Linked DNA regions of Homo sapiens. The protein of the gene in region 1 purifies or fractionates together with the protein of each later gene. This does not show direct contact. Each region holds a gene or a part of one and is shown in the gene's direction. Other genes may lie near its edges.

The links.
Region 2: the proteins of MFSD11 (region 1) and UBE2Q1 purify together in Homo sapiens (affinity purification with mass spectrometry; 2 studies listed by BioGRID and IntAct, with this or other methods). This does not show direct contact.

What each region holds. Positions count from the first base shown.
Region 1 is NC_000017.11:76,739,891-76,749,509, forward strand, and holds part of MFSD11 (UNC93-like protein MFSD11), read left to right. Parts: intron 1-1,066; coding exon 1,067-1,174; intron 1,175-2,038; exon of another isoform or gene 2,039-2,078; coding exon 2,079-2,158; intron 2,159-2,286; coding exon 2,287-2,383; intron 2,384-3,507; coding exon 3,508-3,566; intron 3,567-4,431; coding exon 4,432-4,576; intron 4,577-9,619.
Region 2 is NC_000001.11:154,548,663-154,556,925, reverse strand, and holds part of UBE2Q1 (ubiquitin-conjugating enzyme E2 Q1), read left to right. Parts: intron 1-961; coding exon 962-1,066; intron 1,067-1,393; coding exon 1,394-1,498; intron 1,499-1,897; exon of another isoform or gene 1,898-2,140; coding exon 2,141-2,191; exon of another isoform or gene 2,192-2,276; intron 2,277-3,253; exon of another isoform or gene 3,254-3,317; intron 3,318-3,753; coding exon 3,754-3,894; intron 3,895-4,105; coding exon 4,106-4,190; intron 4,191-4,461; coding exon 4,462-4,522; intron 4,523-4,742; coding exon 4,743-4,833; intron 4,834-4,946; coding exon 4,947-5,005; intron 5,006-5,106; coding exon 5,107-5,155; intron 5,156-5,433; coding exon 5,434-5,529; intron 5,530-5,921; coding exon 5,922-5,988; intron 5,989-6,456; coding exon 6,457-6,488; 3' UTR 6,489-8,263. UniProt on the Homo sapiens protein: Catalyzes the covalent attachment of ubiquitin to other proteins. May be involved in hormonal homeostasis in females. Involved in regulation of B4GALT1 cell surface expression, B4GALT1-mediated cell adhesion to laminin and embryoid body formation.

The sequences.
Region 1 (9,619 bases):
GTGCGGGGGCTCACGCCTGTAATCCCAGCGCTTTGGGAGGCGGAGGTGGGCGGATCACGAGGTCAGGAGATCTAGACCATCGTGGCTAACACGGTGAAACCCCGTCTGTACTAAAAATACAAAAAAAAAAAAAATTAGCCAGGCATGGTGGTGGGCGCCTGTAATCCCAGCTACTCGGGAGGCTGAGGCAAGAGAATGGCGTGAACCCGGGAAGGGGAGCTTGCAGTGAGCAGAGATTGTGCCACTGGACTCCAGCCTGGGCGACAGAGCGAGGCTCCGTCTCAAAAAAAAAAAAAAAAAAAAGAACAAATGCAAAAACACATTTGATATTTGAGAGATTCATAAAAGCCAAAGAATAATTTACTTTGGATTTATGAATAGTATCTAGTAAATGAATTCAGGGCCTTTGAAATGGTTTTAACCACACTTCGTACAAGACATATGTACTAGGGCTGGGTCAATAGTAACTGAGTAATAATGTTCAAGTGAGACCATTAGGTTGAGTTAAATAAATTCTGGCTTAAGCAAGTTGTAGCTCTGCGCTTGTTATTTATAGCAGAGAAATGTCATGACGCTGCCAGAGTTGTAGGCTAAGTTTGTAGGGCAGATTGGTGGACTGGGGCCTCTGGAGTCATGCAGTCCTGGCTCGACATTCACCAGCCACCCAGCTGGACTTTTGGCAAATTACTTAATCCCACTGTATTTCCTTTTTCTTTTCTTTCACATGAGGATAATAACAATATCTTTCTCCTAGTGCTGTTAGGATTAGAAGAGAAAATCTGTATAAGGTACTTGGCACAGTTCCTGTTACTATGACTTACCAGTATGTAAAAAATGTATTGTAGGCAGACTGATCCCAAGGCACAGTTGGTGGGCTTCAATATTTTGTACAAATGAAAACTTTTATATGGTATTGAATTGAATGATATAACTATCATAAATTCTGACTAAATAATATGAGTGTTTATTGTAAAATCTATAAACAAATGGATTTTAAACAGTGACACAGCATATAAGGGCTTTGTTCTTTTTTTTTTTTTTTTCCGTTTGTGTATTATGTGTGCAGCATGGCTATTATCTATGGAGTGTTCTCTGCTTCAAATTTGATTACACCGTCAGTGGTTGCCATTGTAGGACCTCAACTCTCTATGTTTGCCAGTGGTTTATTTTACAGGTAAGTAGTGTAATCTTGCACTTATTTAATCAGAACACTTGTCAGGATCTTTCAAGTAGATAGTAAACTTCACAATAATTTATAGACTTGGACTGAATAGAATATAGGTGGTATTTTACGAATTTTGGCTCAGTACTTGTTGCTCAGGGATATCATATTCTAATGTGATAGGATGTATCTATATCTGCTTTTGTTTTATTGTTAATAAAAATAGTATCCAAAAGTCTCTATGAGGGTTGAAAAGAACATTCTATGAAATAATCTTATTTTCTGTCAATTGACTGAAAATATGTGGGGATTCAAATGAAATAACTAAATCTTTCTCTGAACTCTAGAACTATAGTTCCATGATGTGCTAAGCTTTTGGCAAAGAACACTGCAAACCTGTAAAATGTCTGATTTTGCAAATCTGAAATAATAAATTATGGGCCAGGCACAGTGGCTCACACCTGTAAATCCCAACACTTTGGGAGGCCGAGGTATTGCTTGAGCCAAGGATCACTTGGGTCCAGGAGTTCGAGACCAGCCTGGGCAACATGGTGAAACCCTTGTCTCTACCAAAAATAAAAAAAAATTAGCCGGGCTTGGTGGCACATGCCTGTAGTCCCAGCTACTTAGGAGGCTGAGGTGGGAGGATGGCTTGAGCCCAGGAGGTGGAGGTTGCAGTGAGCTGTGATGGTACCACTGCACTCCAGCCTAGGCAATGGAGTGAGACCCTGTCTCAAAAAAATTAATTAATTAAGAAATGAGAAAGTTGATTGTGTCCCTTTTTTCAAAACTGGAGCGATCCTTTACAGGTTGAGTTTTAAAAGAAGAGAATGTCAGAACTGATTCCTAGAAGGCATAATTGGCATTCTATTTCAGGTATCGTTTGACTGTAATACCTTGACCTGTTATATTTTAGCATGTACATTGCCGTTTTCATCCAGCCTTTCCCGTGGTCCTTCTACACAGCCTCTGTTTTCATTGGAATTGCTGCTGCTGGTAAGCATTTTGATTTTTAACTTCTCTGCTTTCTTTTCTGGGGCCTATCTAAGGGTATTATTTATGTGTTTAGTATGTGACTCTAAGTGAATTTCTTTCCCTTGATAAACTTTTGGGTTGAATTTTAGTGCTTTGGACAGCACAAGGAAACTGCCTGACAATCAATTCGGATGAGCACAGCATTGGGAGAAACAGTGGGATTTTCTGGGCACTTCTGCAGTCTAGGTAATTATCCTTTTGAGGTTCAGTCTTTCCTTTTCTTTCTTTTTTTTCTGTCATACCATTTTTTAGGTCTTTGGTTGACAATTTGGATCTTCCATGTTACGTGACTTAAGTTCTAGCTAAATGTGACGTGATTCCAATTTTATAGAATCACTTGTAATAATGGCTGAGTATGGTGGCTCACTAGCTACTCAGGACTATTTATACCAATACTGAATATAGCATACTAACTTTTTTTTTTTTTTTAAATGAGACGGTGTCTCACACTGTCACCTGGGCTGGAGTGCAATGGCACGATCTCGGCTTACTGCAAGCTCTGCCTCCTGGATTCAAGCAATTCTCCTGCCTTAGCCTCCTGAGTAGCTGGGATTACAGGCGCCCACCACCACGCCCGGCTAATTTTTTTTGTATTTTTAGTAGAGACGGAGTTTCACTATGTTGGCCAGGCTGGTCTCGAACTCCTGACCTTGTGATCCGCCCGCCTTGGGCTCCCAGAGTGTTGGGATTACAGGCGTGAACCACCGTGCCTGGCCTTAACATTTTTCTTAAGAAGAAAGCAAAACAGCTATTCTGCTCTTGACTGTTGGATTTCTGGAATCTCTTCTGAGGAATCACCCTCATGAATCGCGCCTAAAATTTTGGCCTTGACAAGGCTTAACAAATGCAAATGTTACATTTTAAAGAGTTGTATATTAAGAAACTAGTGTGTAAGTGAATGATTTTTCAGGAAAGTATGCTAAAGAAAGTATTTGATTAGATGCAGATAACTAAATCATGGATTTTTAGAAACAGATTCTTTAAAATTTAGCTTAAGCTTATTTCCAGGGAGTCATTTCCAGAGTTGCAATAAATCACATGTTTCAAAGTGAGTCAATTCTTCTTTGAAGGGTGCCTCTGAATCAGGTTACTGTCACATGGAAGGAGACTGAATTCCATCTGGGGCAGTTAAGTTTATCAGAGTCCAGATGAAGCTGATACTTTTAAATGACCCAGGACAGGTAGATACTTTAAAAATGATGTCCTTCTCTCTCCCTCTCTTACAACAAATAATGGGAATAATTATTTTTAAAAAACTATAAATATTAAAATAATTACCCAACATCCTATCCTCCCTTTTCTTCCCCCAGCTTGTTCTTTGGAAATCTCTACATATATTTTGCCTGGCAAGGGAAAACTCAGATATCAGGTTTGTTTTATTCGCGTTGCTTTATTCAGATATGTTCAAAGCATAATAGGAGTTATATAGAAATACCCATTATTGCTTTATTCAAGCATCGTTCTCATGAACCCCGACACCTCAAGTTCTCGCAGATTTTAGCTTTTAGTAAGACTTTTCCTTGGTTTATATTATTATTATTATTTTGAGATGGAGTTTCACTCTTGTTACCCAGGCTGGAATGCAATGGTGCCATCTTGGCTCACCGCAACCTCCGCCTCCCGGGTTCAAACAGTTCTCCTGCTTCAGCCTCCCAAGTAGCTGGGATTACAGGCCTGCACCACCACGCCCAGCTAATTTTGTATTTTTAGTAGAGATGGGTTTCTCCATGTTGTTCAGGCTGGTCTCAAACTCCTGACCTCAGGTGATCCGCCCTCCTCAGCCTCCCAAATTGGTGGTATTACAGGCCTGAGCCATCCCTCCCAGCCTGGTTTCTATTACTAAACTAGGATTATAGTTTATGACTATGCTTTAAGGGGCTTCTCAGGGTCTAAGGGAAGGTTATGCTGTGCACGAGCTTACGAGAATACTGCGCACGAGTATGTGGTTCTCAGAAGACTTCTGAATGCTCAGTTGTTTTCTCTGGACCCTTCTTTGATTAAAAGAAGGCGATTAAGCCCTTGTGCTGTTTTTCTTTGGCTTATTCATATTTCTCTAACTGAAAGACAAAGGTGAAGGTATCCTATTTGTCTCCTTTTCCTAGGTTTTTACTGATGCATTAAAGTAAAAATGTAACGAGGAAGTGTGTTGACAGTTGTAAGCAGCCCTTGTACCGTGATACTAATTCTGGAATTGTTTGGTCGATACTATCTTGTTTCTTCTTTTTTCTCCGTAGAGAGTGACCGAAGAACAGTGTTTATTGCCCTAACGGTGATTAGCCTTGTGGGGACAGTTCTATTCTTTCTCATTCGGAAACCAGATTCTGAAAATGTCCTAGGAGAAGATGAGTCTTCTGATGACCAGGACATGGAAGTCAACGAGTAAGATGTTGGAAACATTCTATTTTATTTTAAAATAGATTTTGAGTAGATCTAGTCTAGAGATTACCAACCCGTTTAGCCCTAACTGATGTCCAGTACTCTCTGTAGGTTACCACAGGCAAGAAAAGGAAGAAAATAAAGGAGGAGCTGCGAGGGAGGAAGAAAAAAAAGGTCACCAGAGGAAGGGAGGTGGTGAAAAGGTGCACAGGGAAGTTGAGTCTGTTCCTGGCCTTGCCACTGATGTGTGTGACCCTGGACAGTGGCAGCAATTCCTTTCATGTCTCCAGGCCTCAGCTTTCTCACTCAATCCATATGTTTCCATGGGCAAGGAAATAGAAGGCAGTGTTGACCTTGGTTACTGTTTCTGTGATCCAGCTCTAAAGCTTTCCTGTTCTTGTGGTGTGAGTGAGTGGCAGGGCCAGTGATGGTTGTCACAGATGAACCTTGGTTATCACTAGGCTCTTGCTTATGGTGTCCGGCTCTTGCACTAACTTACATAGGCGGTTTTCCCCAGAGTGGTCCAAATAGGGGAATGAGTATACAACCCTGTGTTTTGTAAAAATTGTAAATTACCTAAGCACATTTCAGTTTCAGGTGACACTATTTAAGCATGACAGGCTAGTGATCTGCAGTATCATTTAGATTTGAGGAAGGAGAGATGAGAAATTAATCTCTGCCACCCTTGTTTTGCTTTGTTTGTGATACATTGTGAAGATTGCCTTATAGCATTTTATATATTGTTAAAACTTTCGCATTGAGCATCCCATGCTGACTTTGTAATCCAGAAAGGGCCTAAAATTGTCCAGTCATAGGAGCATTAGATGCTCCAGATTTGCAGTAAGTTTGTGTAAAGCAGAAGCAAGGCAGCGCTTTGGTCTGGATATGCTGCCATGCCCTGCTTTCTTGCTCTTTATTGTGCTTCACAGACACTGGGTTTTTTACAAATTGAAGGCTTGTGGCAACCCTGCATCGAGTAAGTCTTTCTCTCCATACCACTTTTCCAACAGCGTGTGGTCACTTTGTGTCTCTCTGTCACATTTTGGTAATTCTCACAATACTTCAAACATTTCATTCTTATGACATCTGTTATAAGATGTGATCGGTAATCTTTGATGTTACTATTGCAATTGTTTTGGGGCACCACAAACCAGATCCATATAAGGTGGTGAACTTAATTGATAAATGTTGTGTGTGTTCTGACTGTTCCACTGCAGGCCATCCCCCATCTCCCTCCCTCTTCTCCTGAGACACAGCAATATTGAAATTAGGCCAGTTAATGACCCTACAATAGCCTCTATGTGTTAAAGTGAAAGGAAGACATGCATGTCTCTCACTTTATTATTTACTTATTTATTTATTTATTTATTTATTTATTTTTTGAGACGGAGTCTCGCTCTGTCACCCAAGCTGGAGTGCAGTGGCATGATCTCGGCTCACTGCAGCCTCTGCCTCAGCCTCCCAAGTAGCTGGGATTACAGGCATGCACCACCACACCCGGCTAATGACTAATCAAGAAATGACTAAGCTTAGCAAGGAAGACATGTAGAAAGCTGAGACAGGCTGAAAGCTATGCCTCTTGTGCCAAACAGCCAAGTTGTGAATGCAAAGGAAAAGTTTTTGAAGGGACTCAAAAGAGCTACTCCAGGGAACACACGAATGATAAGAAAGTGAAACAGCCTTATTGCTGATACGGAGAAAGTTTTAGTGGTCTGGATAGAAGATCAACCCAGCCACAACATTCTCTGAAGCCTAATCCAGAGCAAGTCCCTCTCTTCAATTCTGTGAAGGCTGAGAGACGTGAGGAATCTTTAGAAGAAAAATTTGAAGCTAGCAGAGGTTGGTTCGTGAGGATCAAGGAAAGAAACCATCTCCATGACATAAAAGTGCAAGGTGAAACAGCAAGTGCTGCTGGAGAAGCTGCAGCAAGTTATCCAGAAGATCTGGCCATTATAATTGACAAACGTAGCTGCACTAAACAACAGGTTTTCAATGTAGACCAAACAGTCTTACATTAAAAGATGCCATCTAGGAATTTTATAGCTAGAGAGAAGTTAATGCCGGGCTTTAAACCTTCAAAGAACAGGCCGACTCTTGTTAGGGGATAATGCAGCTAATGACTTGAAGTTGAAGCCAGTGCTCATTTACCATTCCAGAAACCCTATGACCCTTAAGAATCATGCTTAATCTACTCTGCCTGGGCTCTAGAAATGCAGTGACAAAGCCTGGATGGTAGCACATTTGTTTACGGCATGGCTTATTGACTATTTTAAGCCCACTGTTGAGACCTACTGCTCAGAAGAAAAGGTTCCTCTCAAAATATTACTGCTTATTGACAATGTACCTGATCAGCCAAGTGCTTTGTTGGAGGTGTACAAGGAGATGAATGTTGTTTTCATGCCTTCTAACAACATGTGTTCTGCAGCCCCTGGATCAAGGAGTAATTTCCATTTTTTTTTTTTTGAGACAAAGTCTTGCTCTGTCACCCAGGCTGGAGTGCAGTGGCGGGATCTCGGCTCACTGCAACCTCTGCCTCCCGGGTTCAAGAGATTCCTCCTGCCTCAGCCTCCTCAGTAACTGGCATTACAGGCGTGCACCACCATGCCTGGCTAATTTCAACTTTCAAGTCTTATTATTTAAGAAATACATTTCATGAGGATATAGCTGCCATAGATAATGATTCTTCAGATCTAAGCAAAGTAAATTGTAAACCTTTTGAGAAGGAGTCATCATTCTAGGTAGGTCACATTAAGAACATCTGTGCCTGGGGCTGGGTACAGTGGCTCACGCCTGTAATCCCAGCACTTTGGGAGGCTGAGGCAGGTGGATTGTTTGGGCTTAGGAGTTTGAGACCAGACGGGGCAACATGGTGAAACTTTTTTTTTTTTTGAGATGGAGTCTCACTTTTTCACCCAGGCTGGAGTGCAATGGCGTAGTCTTGGCTCACTGCAACCTCTGCTTCCCAGGTTCAAGTGATTCTTCCGCCTCAGCCTCCCGAGTAGCTGGGACTACAGGCACATGCCACCATACCCAGCTAATTTTTGTATTTTTAGTAGAGACGGGGCTTCACTATGTTGGGCAGGCTGGTCTCGAACTCCTGACCTCGTGATCCACCCGCCTTGGCCTCCCAAAGTGCTGGGATTACAGGCGTGAGCCACCGCGCCTGGCAAAACATTTTGTTTTAAAGCACAAACCAGTAGTTACTGGAGAAGGAGTCTGTGAAAGTGAATACCACAAATTCAATGAAAACTGACCCCCCCATTCAGCCAGCACATGTTTGGTGTTGGTCCTAGAGGACAAATGCCGCCCATCCCTGTTTTTAAGGAACTGCCAAGTTGGGGAGGTGGATGAGGGGTTCTGTAACTGTGAGCTGGCGTTCTTCTAGAAATACTGCTCAGCCTTTGTAGCATTCTCTCTTCCTGAATCGTCTCCTAAATTTGGAGCTTCTGTGTCTTTGTTCTACAAATAGCACAGACTTGTGGCAGCCCTCTTCTATGCCTGAGGGATATAGGCGTGAACAAGACAGATAAGTCCTTGTTCTTACGGGACTTAATTTTAGAGGGGGTGGTAGACAATGCACGTGTAAGAAAATAGCAAAGTGAGTGTTAGGAAGACTGTGAAAGAGGGGGAGAGTGGGGGGGAGGGGGGAGAGTGGGGTGGCTCCCTGAGACGTGGCTGGTGAGACATGAAGGTCAGCGGGTGGCCTTTGCCAAAGCCAGGCAGTGGGAAGGGCGTGGTGGGCTCTGGTCTCCAAGAAGGAAGAAGTGGAAGCAGTAGACAGGGTCAGATTATGTAAGCCAAGATAGGAGGTTTGTGTTTTCTTCTTAGTGTGATTAGAAGCTGTTGAGGGTATAAGTAGAATTCTGTTTTAAAGGTTCCCACCTAAAGGCCTCACAGAAAAAGATTTGAAGAGGTCCAAAGAGACAGCTCTGTCTGTCTTCTGGCTGGGCACAGTGGCTCCTGCCTGTAATCCCAGCACCTTGGGAGGCTGAGGCAAGAAGATCGCTTGAGCCCTGTTTGAAATCAGCCTGGGCAACATAGCAAGACCTAGTCTCTACTTAAAAAAAAAAAAAATGAGCCAGGTGTGGTGGTGCACGCCTGTAGTCCCAGCTACTTGAGAGGCCGAGGTAGGGGGAAGCTTCAGCAAAGGGATTCAAGGTTGCAGTGAGCTGTGGTCACGCCGCTGCACTCCAGCATGGGCAACAGAGCAAGACCCTGTCTTAAAAAAAAAAAATCTGTCCTCTATCTCAAGTGCGTAATTTGCATCTCTGAGGACTTATTAGCTGGGTGATCTCTGGGTGTTTCTTCATTGGCAGTTACTTCTATCCTCCTTCTCCCCTCCTCCCTGTATTCTTTCCTTCCTCTCTTCTTTCCTCCCTCTATCCTTTCACTTCTTACCTTCCTGCATTCATCCTTTCTTTCCCTTCCCTCTCTCCCACCCTCCCTTCCTCTCTCCCTTCTTTTCTTCCTTCCCCTATATTTGAGGTTCTCTGATATTCCAAGCATTGTGCTAAATAAAACAGAAGTTTGTGCATTCATGGAGCTTACTTTCTAGTTGGTGACAGAGAGAAAAGAAACAGGCAGGTTTTAAAAATAGCTTTATTGAGATATAACTCATATACTATATAATTCACCCATCTAAAGTATACACTTCAGTGCTTTTGAGTATATTCACAGAGTTGTGCGTCCATCATTGAAACCAATTTTAGAATATTTTATGAATACTTTTATTACCCCAAAAAGGAGCCACAGGATGAATGTGATGGCCCATGCTTGGCCTGTGGTTCCTTTTCCAGGTAATAAAAATCATAGCACTTTGGGAGGCCGAGACAGGCGGATTGCTTGAACCCAGGAATTTGAGATTAGCCTGAGCAACATGGCGAAACACCATCTCTACCAAAAAAAAAATACAAAAATTAATCAGGCATGGTGGCGCATGTCTGTGCTCCCAGCTACTTGAGAGACTGAGGTGGGAGAATCGCTTACGCCCAGGACGCGGAGGTTGCAGTGAGCCAAGATAATCACACCACCACACTCCAGCCTGGG
Region 2 (8,263 bases), on another chromosome or scaffold:
CCAGTAGAGGTGGATAAGGTTTCCCTGGCTTGTGTGGGAACCTCGAGTTAATTTTGTTCCTGAATTAAGCTTCTAATTCCTTAAGGGTAGGTTTGCCCCTATCCAGCTGCTCTTTCTGTTGCCAGAGGCCATTTACTGCGTTTGTCCCTGGCAGGAAGTTAAATTTAGGGGGTCCTCAGCCAGACTCCCCATGGCTATAAAGGAGACTTGGCCTAAACTAGCCCCCTTGGTTTGGGCAGAGAGGGAGTCTGGTCAGGCTGCATTTGGCACCGTGGCTCAGGAATGCTGGGAATGTCAGTAGCGTAGGCTTCTTTCTCCCAGCCTGCCATGTGGAGCCCTACAGCCCACGCCTGGACTGAGAAGGTGGCAGGTTCCCAAGGGAGAGGTGGGGAGAATTGGTCTTTGAGGGGCTCTTCTGGAAGTGGTGTGGGTAGATTCTTGCCAGTACCCTTTTACTCTTGGGTTCTGGAGATACAGTCTAGTTTTTATACTTCTTCCCTACTGAACTCTGCTTTTTTCACTTCAGTGTCATTGTGATGAGGTGATCCCTTCCTCAGCCGATTCTGGAGTTTGAAAAGCAAGCTTGGAGGACTGTTCTGGGTCCAGGGAGAACTTGAAGTCTAGAACTTGTATAGGCAGTGCAGGAGATGAGGAGTCCCCCTTCGCTGTTAGCCAAGTTTGGCTGTGCTAGGTTTCCTGGTTTGTACTCTCGAGGAAAGAAAGAAAAGGTTTCAGTCTGCTTCTCGGAAAGGGTCTTCCCAGGGACTGTTTTTCTTCCAGTTTAGAATTTGTTGTGAAGCTGCTTGGTTAGATGCTGACCTAAGTTGGGCTTTTATGTGTGTGTAGGGGGTGGGGGTGGGAAGCAAAGGGGCTAGAAGTCTTGGGGGGAAGAGGACAGGCAAAATCTGGCTTTTCCCAGAGTCACCCATTTTGATTGCTCTTATTGCTCTTTTCCCTTCAGGAGTCATACCCTGCTGTGCCCCCCATCTGGTCGGTGGAGTCTGATGACCCTAACTTGGCTGCTGTCTTGGAGAGGCTGGTGGACATAAAGAAAGGGAATACTCTGGTGAGGGGGCCACAGGGTAGGGGTACATTTTGTTCTTATGAGGCCCATGCCACAAAGGCATCCTGTGAAAGGGATCCTGAAAAGTGGACGGTACACAGCTAAACATTTAGGGGATGACCTCTCGGGGGAGTTGCTTACTGAAGCCAGAGGGAGACCCTGCATCGGCCCTGGGATTGGTCCATCAGGAGACTCATTCCCACAGCCACGTGGCCCATAAGGCTTAGAGAACTAGTTATTGGTGTGGGGCCCAAACTAAGAGCTCATCCATGCACTTATCCAGATCGGAGTGGGGAAGGATTTGATGTCTCTGTGCTCCCCTACCTGTAGCTATTGCAGCATCTGAAGAGGATCATCTCCGACCTGTGTAAACTCTATAACCTCCCTCAGCATCCAGATGTGGAGATGCTGGATCAACCCTTGCCAGCAGAGCAGGTGAGCAGCTGAGGAGCCTCGGGCCCTGTTGTGCAGAGTTGCCCCACAGGGTACTCAGTAAATAATTGAGACAAATCAGTAGTTTCTCTCCATCCCCACCGGCTCCCAAAAACATACACGTCTTATGACTCTCACCCTCGTTCTTCTCCAGATGGGAATCTTCTTTTGCTAAATGGGGCACTGGTAGCTTCATCTCTGATATCAAAATTCATTCTCATGGGCAGCATCCCAGATGTTGAAAGGGAGCGGGGGAATTTTTACCATTATCTTAGCAATAACAGTTGGTGGCCACTGGGGACCCAGGCCCCTTGGTGAGAACCAAGAATGCAATATCAGTCTAAAGAAGATCAAGTAAAGGAGGGGTTCTTAGGAGAATTAAACTAGGATTTAGGAGGTGGGTGACAGAGACAGCCATTTTGCTTTTCTTTTATTCTTTGGCAGTGATAGGCGAAAAATAATGGGCTGGTAGCAAAGCCATTCCCTGGGCTGTTGCTTCCACTCAGATCTGGCTGGTGGAGAGACTGGCAGCATTACAGGCAGGCGCACAACTTCCAGACCTGGGGGCTCAGGGGAGTAGGTTGGAGGCTGCATTCTAGCAAGCCACTGGGGCTCTGATCTCCATCTTTCCCTTCCTTGCTGCAGTGCACACAGGAAGACGTGTCTTCAGAAGATGAAGATGAGGAGATGCCTGAGGTAGGCTTGCCCCCTGAGGTGGCATTGGCTGGAAGCTCTTGCAGTCAGCAACATTGGTACCCATATCCAGAACTCCAGTCTAAAACTGGAGAGAGAAAAATATCAAAGGAATAAAGACAGATTTACTGACCTGGAGGAATAGCCAGTGTAGTAGAGGAGACAGGGCACCCATATCCAACCACTGAAGACAGGTGCAGCGCGGTTCAAACCAAATACTGGGTAAGTTAATTTCAAATGGCTTTGGAGTCCAACAAACCTGTGTTTGCATCCTAGCTATCCTAATTGAGGAATTTTATGTAATCTCACTAAGCTACAGTTTTCTTATCTATAAAGTAGGATTATAATACCTACTGCATATGGTTGTCTTGAGATTAAATGAGGTGTTATATATAAAATGCTTCAGATGATACATGATAAATGCTAAACAATCTATCTGATATATTCTCTAAAAACATACAGAATATAAAATCATGGTTAGGAATTTGAGCTTTAGAGCTAGACAGAACTTGACTGAATCTTAGCTCTGCTAAGAGCTGTGACTTTGGGCATGATAATTGACCTCACTAGACTCAGCTTCCGCATCTATAAAATGGATAATGATAGAATAATGAGTGATGGTGGTAAGAATGAAATGAGCTAGTATCTGCGGCACCTAGGACAGAACCTGGCATGTAATAAACACTCAGTAGACATTACCTGCTGGTGTGGTAATTAGGTATGTCCTGCCAGAAATGGGGAGATCACTCTGATTACTTTTATTTCCTAGCATTAGATTAATATCCCAGGTTCTATAACCGTGTAAGGTTCTTGAGACTGGCAAAGGGCTGACGACATGAAATTTACTCCTCCCAGATAGTGGACAGCCCTCTGGGCCACACCCCCAACATCTGGCTGAGGGGCTCAACCCTACATAGGTTCTCCTCCTTCCCTATGCTCAGTGAGCTAGTTGCTTGCTCACTTAGAGCAGGATGAATAAGGGGCTAATTCTGTTCTTGACCTCTTCCATATATCTCTCTGGACATCCTTTCTCATTTCCATCTGGCAGTGCGTGCCTCTGCATACCTGATTCATGCCTTGCATTTGTAGCGAGGAGAGGAGATGTAATGATTCAGGTTTCTCCTTTAGGCTTGGGGCCCTGAGAACTCCCGGGTGCAATAGTCACCTGGTGAAACATGAGCTTTGAGTCACAGGGTCAGGCCCAAGTCATTTCTGCTAGGAATTAGGGAAGAGTTTCTGCTGCCAAGGGAGTTTTAGGAACAGTTGGAGCAGGGTCAGTCCAGGAAACAAGAGGGCTAAGTCCCTGCCTCGATCTCAGCTGCAGCTCTGCTCGTTTCCGAAGTCCTTGCTGTAGCTTGAGAGCTGAAGATTTAGACTGTGGAGGGAATGGGGCTGGAAATTGTTCTAAAAATGGAAAGCACGTTGCGTTTATAAGACTGCTAGATGGACTGCTTCACTTTAACTTTTGGCTCTTCGCCAAATGGGACTGGGAAGGTGATGGTCATTCTCTAACCTGTGTCGGTTTTTTTCCTTTTCTTTTCACTCCCACCCCACACCTCCTCCAGGACACAGAAGACTTAGATCACTATGAAATGAAAGAGGAAGAGCCAGCTGAGGGCAAGAAATCTGAAGATGATGGCATTGGAAAAGAAAACTTGGCCATCCTAGAGAAAATTAAAAAGAACCAGAGGCAAGATTACTTAAATGTACGTGCCTTCTAGAGAGAGGCTGGTGAAGGGGTTGGTGGGAAATGGCTGGGAAGTAGTAGGCCATCGCATCTCAGTATGGAGAGCAGACTCCTTTTTTGTGCCTAATCCTTTCTTAAATCCTGGGCAAGCTGCCAGACTGCCCCTAAGGTCTAACGTGTGTTTATAAACCACACGACCAAGGAATGTTCCTGTCATCCGTCCCTCACAGGGTGCAGTGTCTGGCTCGGTGCAGGCCACTGACCGGCTGATGAAGGAGCTCAGGGATATATACCGATCACAGAGTTTCAAAGGCGGTGAGTTTGCCCCAGAGAGGGGCCTGCACAAGAGTCACCCATAAAGAAGGGTATGGTGGCAAGGGGCCCAAGAGGTTCTGGGGTCCAGGAGTGCTTATGAACTTTTCAGGCCAAGAATGGAGCTCCTCAAGCCAGTGGCTTGGTTGCATGTCCATCTGTGGTGAACCTAGAGCTGTTGATCTTTTTCTCTCAGTCTGGGAAAGGGGTCTGCATTAGAGACCACTCACCACCTGGACCATTCTACTAACACCTGTTTTTTCCCTCCTTCCAGGAAACTATGCAGTCGAACTCGTGAATGACAGTCTGTATGATTGGAATGTCAAACTCCTCAAGTGAGTGGGGACTCTGGGATTGGAGAGGAAGTTGAGGAGGAGTGTGAGTGGGGCTACTGTGGTGGGATCTCCAGGGCAGCCCCATCCAGCATTTTCATTCAGGGTCCCGGAGCGGGTGTGGGCAGTGGTTTCGTGGTCTGCTGCCAGCCAGGGCAGGGGAGCCCTTATGAAGCTCCTGAGGTGGAACCAGGCATCTGAGCCCAGGCTTGTTGCTTCTTAGAGTTGACCAGGACAGCGCTTTGCACAACGATCTCCAGATCCTCAAAGAGAAAGAAGGAGCCGACTTCATTCTACTTAACTTTTCCTTTAAAGTAAGACTTTTCTTTTCCAGTCTCTCCCTCTGGCCTAGGCTGCCCAGTCTGCCTGACAGTCCTGTGGAGGATGCTGGCCTCCCTCCCCTGATTGTCGTCTCTCTCTCTCTCAGGATAACTTTCCCTTTGACCCACCATTTGTCAGGGTTGTGTCTCCAGTCCTCTCTGGAGGGTGAGTGGCTGGCATGCGGAAGAGGGCATCTCCTCTGGCAGAGGGCGGGGAAGAGACTTGGAGATTTTGTCAGGCACAGCTGACTAACCTTTCTCATGCAGGTATGTTCTGGGCGGAGGGGCCATCTGCATGGAACTTCTCACCAAACAGGTGAGCCTGTCTCTCCTCCTTGGCCAGGCCGGCCTGGGCGGGGATTGTCTGAGCTTTACAGCACACACCCCTACGGGCTGGGTGATAGACATGATGTGGCCCTTTCATTCTGCTGGGCTGGGTCTGCACCCACTGACCTAGACAGACAGGTGGTGGCAGTGCTGGGGGCAAAGGGCAAGGGCCCTCCTATAGACACAGCTGATTGCCCAGAGGACAAGCATGAGGGTTCTCTGGAAGCTCCATCTGGACCTGCTTGCCTTGTCCTTCCCTTCACCCAGGGCTGGAGCAGTGCCTACTCCATAGAGTCAGTGATCATGCAGATCAGTGCCACACTGGTGAAGGGGAAAGCACGAGTGCAGTTTGGAGCCAACAAAGTAAGGATCCTGGTCCTGGGGCTGGTGGGGCTGGGTGGAGCCAAGTACACTTGGGGCCACTAGCAGGCCAAGGCTGCCTTCTTTAGAGGAATGAGCATAAGGCCCCCGGGCTGGTGGCATTGGATGAGAGGGCCTAGGGTGCCCACAATGGAACAACTGTGCCTTGGCCCCTAGGGGCACCCCTAGGACTTTTGGGAGGTTTCGGGTCTGGAAAAGGAAGACTATGGGATTATGCCTCCAAGGGACCTCGAAGGTGGAGGGTACTTAGTGTTTTACTAGACCACAGTGCTGGGAGCTGGGACTCTGGGGTCTCTGGGTGACAGCCTGCAGAAGGTGAGGGGCAGTAAGGCCACAGCTAGCCATGGCCTGATCTGGTGGCTTCCTCTCCCCAGTCTCAATACAGTCTGACAAGAGCACAGCAGTCCTACAAGTCCTTGGTGCAGATCCACGAAAAAAACGGTGAGGCTGGAGCCAGGACTCAGGAGATTCGGACACTTGCCACACCCAGGTTTTCACTTCCAGCCACAGAGCAAGAACCCCTTCTTTTGGTTTCTGATACTCAACCACCCATTAACACAGCACCTGCCCCAGTTCTCCCAGGAGGGACTGGCGGTGGCTAACATTCACAACCTCTTCCAGAAACACACCAAAATGATCGTATCACCGATAAACTTGGTGCTACCCCCTTCTTGACCACCTTTTGAAAAAGCTCATCTAACTCTCCCATCATCTCAGGTTGGGCACATCATTCCCCCTTCTCATCTCCAGGTATGCAGGCTCTCAGCTTCCCATACACCTCTCCCCACACAGCATAGCCCTCCCCAATATCCTCTTATCTCTGCCACTGGAGACGTCTTCAGGGATTGGGGCAGGACAGGGAGGGTGGGCCTGAACCTTCACCTCACTGACCATTCCATTTCTTTGCAGGCTGGTACACACCCCCAAAAGAAGACGGCTAACCCTGGAGTATCACCCTTCCTCCCTCCCCAGGCACCACTGGACCAATTACCTTTGAATGCTGTATTTGGATCTCACGCTGCCTCTGTGGTTCCCTCCCTCATTTTTCCTGGACGTGATAGCTCTGCCTATTGCAGGACAATGATGGCTATTCTAAACGCTAAGGAAAAAAAACAAACACAGAACTGTTTCAAGTACTCAAGACTGACTTACAGACCAACCAACCACCTTGCTGGAACCCTTGCTAGCAGGCATTCTTATAAAAGAAACTTTCGAGCCTCCTTATATTGCTGGAAACTCAGCTGTGCTCCAGACTAGAGCCTCCTTACCTATGCTATGGATTTTTAATTTATTTTCTCTTATTTCATGTACACTGCTTTTTTTGGTTACAGTGTATGATGGATGTGTATGAAAAAAATGTATCTTTGGGAAAACAATTACAGTTTGTTAATTTGAAGATGCTGGTCTTGACTCATCTTTATTTTTATTCGCACATCCCACCCCATCCCCTGAACTACTTGGGAGGTGGGGAGGGGTACGAGTCCACTGTTGCTTTGGTAGAGATGAGAGGCCGCATTTTGCTGCTAAAGCAAGAGAAACTTGGAGCTGAAGCACACACCTGGTCTGCCCCTAGATTTCTCCTCAAGGCCTCTGGAGCAACCAGCACTTGCCCCCTTGGAATGCAGAGCCTGGCCTGCCAAACTACAATGTGGTAGGCTGAAACGATGGTGTTAATTCTTAGGACTACTTTTCTAGTCACAGATGTTTTCAAATTTCTAAGAAAAAGAAAATGAGGCTCAAGAGGCTGCTTCGTAGAATTCCTTTTGAATGAATTGAGTGGGGATGGGGACACAGTCTCCAAGTGTGTATGTGGTCTTTTCTGATCTCAGCTGTGTGGCTGCAACTCTTCGCTGTTCATTGGTTCCTCTCCTGGAAAGTGGCTTCTAACCAGCACTGGATGGTGATCATTGGTAAGCTTTGCTCACCTCCCTCTCTCTTGCTTCATTTGGCTTTATCAAAAAGAACAGACCTAGCTCTGAATTTGTTTGGCTTGGGAAATTATGGATTCTTTCAAGCCACTCCCACAAGGTGGGTCCTACTAGAAAGGGTTAGCATTTTAAGGGGGGTTGTTCTATACACCTGTGTCCTTACCCCAGGCTCAGGAACTGCCAGGGAGGGAAGATGAGGTGGGGAGTCTGTACTGAGATGGAACTGTCAGTGCTGTGTTGTATGTACTTGCTGTTGTAAAAGTTTGGGCATGACTTTGCATCTAGCGGGTGCTGCCTGCATCTCTTTGTCTGTAAGCTTGCTCTGGGACTCAGCCTCTTAGGACCTACGATGCCAGCAGCTCTCATTAACAGTGAAATGACAGAGGCCAAAGATGGCCAAGTGAAGACCCAAGTCTCAGAAAACCCAGACTTGGGACAACTGCCTGGGAACTAGGATGCTAGAGCAGTTCTGTAATGCTTTGAGACACAGCAATTTTCACATTGGCCATTCTTTCCCCTCCCCTACCCCTTTTCTTTTGAGGGACTTTTAATGTTTGCTGCTTTAGGTGGATGGAGAGTCCACCAGTCCCACTCAATGCTGCTCTAACTCTACCCACACCCACCTAATTAGGGGTGCTAATAAAACATGCTGAGGTTGAGATAAAGACGGGACATAAGGGGAAAATTCATTCCATAGAGCTGAAATCTGGTTTTCAAGGCCTCTGTGGCTTTCTTCTGAACTTACCACCAGCCCTGGCTGGAATGTAGATTGTGTTTTTAGTAATGTG